Linked DNA regions of Homo sapiens: region 2 is linked to region 1. The links come from fine-mapping of genetic effects on gene expression. Tissue or cell type: cerebellar hemisphere. Region 1 holds a variant in brackets; the other region holds the start of a gene. All regions are shown on one strand. Distances are from middle to middle.

Region 1 (2,685 bases):
TGTGGATTCAGCCTCACTGCAAGGAAAGCTGGGAAATAGAGGCACTCATGGACGTTTGGTGAATACTAACAACTCTTCCACAGCCTGTGTGCTGGTTTTGTCTGTGAGGGCTGCTGTGGGATCACTAGCCAGGGAAGTAGTGCCTGGCACAGTCTGCCCTCATTAAATGTTTAGTGAATGAATAAATGTATATTTCCCATTAATTGAGATAGATGCGGAGATTACAAAAACAAATCTGATGTGGTTCCTGTTTTCGATGAGCTCTCAGGATTCTTCTTTCTTTCCCTCGTGTTTTAGGGGGAAACTGGCCTCTCTCCTCTTCAAAAGCTCCACTTGCCACCTGTGCCTCCCCTAAGAATGTCCTTTGGCCCTGTCTCCATCAACCGTCACTGTCTCCCTGACGACCCCCTTCCTCTCCACTGACAGGTTACCTCCTCTTGCTCTCCAAGCAGCCTCACATCTTCTCAAACCTGAAATAACCTCTCAGCATTGCTTCCCCTTCATCACTTTGCAACTCCCAATCACCCTCAACATACCACACCCAGGATCCTGGCCTCATCACTCGTACTTGATTAAAAATGCTTCCTCAAAGCTACTGGTGACTTCCTAATTTTTTAAACAGCTTCACTGAGCTGTATGTTTCATATACCATACACTTCACCAATGTGAAGTTCACAATTCAATGGTCTCTAGCATGTTTCTCTCACCACAAAAAGGAACCCCACACCCTTTAGCTTTCACTCCCCATACTCCCATCCTCCTCCCCTGACCCTAAACAACCGCTAATCCGCTTTCCTTCACTGTAGATTTCCCTGCTCTGTACTTTCATATGAATGGAATCATACCATGTATGGCCTTTTGTGACTGGCTTCATCCACTCGGCTTAATGTTTTCCAAGTCCATCCATGCTGTGGCATGTGTCAGCACGTCATTCCTTTTTATGGCTGAATAATATTCCACTGTGTGGAAAGACCACATTTTGTTTATCCATTCATCCATTGATGCACATTTGGATTGTTACACTTTTGGACTATAATGAATAGTGCTGTTATGAACATTCATGTATACGTTTTTTGTGAACATGTTTTCAATTCTCTTGGGTATATAACAGGAGTGGAATTGCTGGGTCATATGATAACTGTTTAATCATTTGAGCAACTGCCAGACTTTTCTAAAGTGGCTGCACTGCTTTACATTCTTATCCATGTGTGGAGGGTCTAATTTCGCTACATTTTTTTTTTTTGAGACAGAGTCTCACTCTTGTC[G/A]CCCAGACTGGAGTGCAGTGGCGTGATTTCGGCTCACTACAGGCTCCCCCTCTCGGGTTCACACCATTCTCCTGCCTCAGCCTCCCGAGTAGCTGGGACTACAGGCGCCCGCCACCACGCCTGGCTAAGGTTTTGTATTTTTAGTAGAGATGGAGTTTCACCGTGTTAGCCAGGATGGTCTCGATCTCCTGACCTCGTGATCCGCCCGCCTCGGCCTCCCAAAGTGCTGGGATTATAGGCATGAGCCACTGCGCCTGGCCTAATTTCACTGTATTTTGCCAACGCTTGATATTATCTAATTTTCATTCTAACCGTTCTAGTCGGGGAGGGAAAATTGTAGCTCGTTGTGGTTTAAATTTGCATTTCCCTGATAACTAGGGACTTTCTAATTTTTTTTTTAAAGTAGAGATGGCATCTCACTCTGTCACCCAGACTGGAGTGCAGTGGCACAGTAACAGCTCACTGCAGCCTCGACCTCCTGGGCTCAAGCAATCCTTCCACCCCAGCCCCCTGAGTAGCCGGGACTACAGGCATACTGAGCTAATGGACTTCCTAATTTTTTAAATCACTATCTTCTTATTTCCTATCTAACATAGTCTTCCTTTAGCTTTTCACACCACTCTTGATGCAATTCAGTTCCCTCCCTTATGCAGCTCCTGAGGTCTGCTCCTCTCTGGCATTCCCTTCCTGACTTTCTGGCCTCCTTCACGGACTCTTATTTCCACCCCACAAATTCTGTTGCTCCCAGGGCTTCGTCCTCAGCCCTGTTCTTGCTCTGCTGTGACCCTGCTAACCCTGTTCACCCCTGTGCCTCTCACCAGCACCCACATGGAAGACCCTTGAATGTAGACACTTCCCAGGTCTTAGTCCCCATTCCACTTCACACTATCCTTCATAGAAACTCAATGAAAAGTTCAATCCAATATCAATAAAGTGTCTATGACTAAGATGCACAGAAAATATTGTATACTATAATTAGTAATAATGATTCCTTCTTTCAAGTATCAGTTAAAAATAAGTAGATGGGCCAGGCGCGGTGGCTCACGCCTGATATCCCAGCACTTTGGGAGGCCAAGGCTGGCGGATCACTTGAGGTCAGCAGTTTGAGACCAGCCTGACCAACATGGTGAAACCTCCTCTCTACTAAAAATACAAAAATTAGCCAGGCGTGGCGGCGGGTGCCTGTAATCCCACCTACTAGGGAGGCTGAGGCAGGAGAATCACTTGAACCCAGGAGGCAGAGGGTGCAGTGAGCTGAGATCGTGCCATTGCACTACAGCTGGGTGTCAAGAGCAAAACTCCATCTCAATAAATAAATAAATAAATAAATAAATAAATAAATAAAATAAAAAATAAGTAGATGACTTGAGCCCAGAATCCCAGCTACTTGGGAGACTGAAGCGAGAGGATTGCTTGAGGA
Region 2 (2,685 bases), 520 kb after region 1:
GCTGGAGTACAGTGGCACGATCTTGGCTCATTGCAACCTTTGCTTCCCAGTTTCAAGCGATTCTCCTGCCTCAGCCTCCCAAGTAGCTGGAATTACAGACACCTGCCACCACACCCGGCTAAATTTTGTATTTTTAGTAGAGACGGGGTTTCACCATGTTGGCCAGGCTGGTCTTGAACTCCTGGCCTCAAGTGATCCTCCCGCCTTGGCCTCCCAAAGTGCTGGGGTTACAAGCGTGAGCCACTGCGCCCAGCCTAATTTTTTGGAGCGACAGGGTTTCACCATGTTGGCCAGGTTGGTCTTGAAGTGCTGAGCTCAAGCCGTCTGCCAGTCTCAGCCTCCCAAAGTGCTGGAATTACGGGCGTGAACCACCGTGCCCAGCCAATTCTTATGCTTTTGCAGCCGCGACCTCCATCCACTCTCTACCCTACATGTCACTCCTCTGCTTAAAACCAAAAGATTTCCACTGTACTTAGAAAAAACTCCACATTCCTCTCTCTGACCTACAGACTCTATGTGACCAAACCCCAATTATCCGACCTCATCTCCTACCACTCTTTCCCTTTCTTACCATACTTTAGCCACACTAGCTTGCTTTCTGTTCCTTGACTATACTCTCAGTTGATTTCTGCCCTAGGGCCTTCACACTGGCTGTTCCCGCTGCCTGGACCACTCTCTTCCCGTATCTTCCTAAGCCTGCCTCCTAATTTGGGTCTCAACGCAAATGTCCCGTCCTCAGAGATGCTCTGCTAGACCACAGTATCTAATACTGACCCCTCCGCCCCACCCTCACACCAGTTACCGTGTCATATCGCCCTCCTCCATTTTTTTTTTTTTTTTACTATACAGTCCTACTTGAAGTTTCTAATCTTTCTTTTCTCATTAACCAAAACTGGAGGGAGGAAAAAGCCCATCATTTTCCCTGGACAGCAGCGCCTACTGGGAGTTTCACCCGCATTAACATGCAAACGACAGGCAAACTCCTAGTCATCCTTCCAAAGACCCTGCTCCATAGCCCTGCCGAGCCCGGTGCGCACCTGCTCACTTCCGACCCAGCGCGGTCGCACGAGGACTGGACGTTTGAGTCCGAGCAACTCCCCCCGGCTGAGGCGGCTCTTCGGGGGCTGGGCCGGGACCTATGAGTCTGGGACTCCAGCTCCCGGCCCAGGGCCGACAACTGCGAAGAGAACAAGCCCAAGGGCAGATTGTTCGGGGCTTAGTCGTGGGTAGCAGGGGTTCTGGAGAAGGCTGGGGCCCGGGAGGCCGGCCGAGCTTTCCCCGCCGCGCGCCTCAGCTCCGCCGGCCGCTGTGCCCGCCCTCGGCCCGCACCTGCCGGCTCCCAAGCCCGCCCGCTCTCACCTCGCCCCGCAGCCCCGGCCCCGGCTTCCGGCGCCACTGTCATCGGAACCGGAAGCCGCGGCGGGCGATCGGCGGCCCGGGCCCGCCCATTGGCGGTTTTGCGGAGGGGTGGCCGTCCCACGAGCCCGCGGCTTTGCGCCTCACCGCCGAGGCTCCCCGCCGCGCATGCCGAGTGGAGTCGCCCGCGGGAACCGGGCGGCGGCCAGAAAAGCCGCGCCTGTAGTCCTCTGGGGGTCGCGCCTGGTCGTTTCCAGGTTCCGAGTCCCTCCGGCCCGGCCCCGGGCCTCCCAGTCGGCGGAAGCCCCTGGCCGCGACCGCTCCTCGCCGGCGGGCGGGTTCCCCACCCGGCAGAGGCGTCGGCCTCGCACTCAACCCAGCACCCGACTCCCGGGTCAGAAGCCCCAAGCCCCAAGTGGTTACGCTTACAGCGCTGCCCGCCCTGCTCAGTGAGGGCGGCGCGGGGGCCGTGAGGGGCAGTGGCTGGGCTAGGTGCGCACCGGCCTCGGCAGGGCTGTGGAGCAGGGTCTTTGGAAGGATGACTAGGAGTTTGCCTGTCGTTTGCATGTTAATGCGGGTGAAACTCCCAGTAGGCGCTGCTGTCCAGGGAAAATGATGGGCTTTTTCCTCTCTCCAGTTTTGGTTAATGAGAAAAGAAAGATTAGAAACTTCAAGTAGGACTGTGAACAGGCTTAGGGATCCTGGACAGAGCCTAGAAATCTCAGGAGAACTGAGAGCTCTTGAAATATGAAGTGATGCTTAAAAAAAAAAAGAAAACTCCAGGCCGGGCGCGGCGGCTCACGCCTGTAATCCCAGCACTTTGGGAGGCCGAGGCGGGCGGATCAGGAGGTCAGGAGATCGAGACCATCCTGGCTAACACGGTGAAACCCCGTCTCTACTAAAAATACAAAAAATTGGCCGGGCGAGGTGGGGGGCGCCTGTAGTCCCAGCCACTCGGGAGGCTGAGGCAGGAGAATGTCGTGAACCCGGGAGGCGGAGCTCGGAGTGAGCCGAGACGGCGCCACTGCACTCCAGCCTGGGCGACAGAGCGAGACTCCGTCTCAAAAAAAAAGAATAGAAAACTCCGGGCCGGGCGGCTCACGCCTGTAATCCCAGCACTTTGGGAGGCTGAGGCGGGCGGAACATAAGGTCAGGAGTTCGAGACCAGCCTGTCCAATATGGTGAAACCCCGTCTGTACTAAAAATACAAAAATTAGCCGGGAATGGTGGCAGGCGCCTGTAGTCCCATGATCCTAGCTACTCGGGAGACTGAGGCAGGAGAATCGTTTGAACCCGAGAGGCGGAGGTTGCAGTGAGCCGAGATCGCGC

What was found. PIP is the estimated chance that this variant, and not a neighbour inherited with it, causes the effect.
Region 2: it holds the start of RMND5B, and the variant in region 1 is fine-mapped to the expression of RMND5B in cerebellar hemisphere (GTEx, PIP above 0.99).

Annotation. Positions count from the first base shown.
Region 1 is chr5:178,647,660-178,650,344 of GRCh38, reverse strand. No RefSeq gene overlaps it. Among named protein-coding and RNA genes, the nearest start is that of CLK4, 22 kb to the right of the region's middle. The variant G/A (reference allele first, on the strand shown) is at 1,266.
Region 2 is chr5:178,129,729-178,132,413 of GRCh38, reverse strand. RMND5B (required for meiotic nuclear division 5 homolog B) reads right to left here and starts at 1,400. Exons shown (of 11, transcript NM_022762.5): 1 at 1,360-1,400; 2 at 1,038-1,177. RefSeq lists enhancers at 1-296, 1,575-2,226, 2,227-2,685 and a silencer at 1,254-1,843.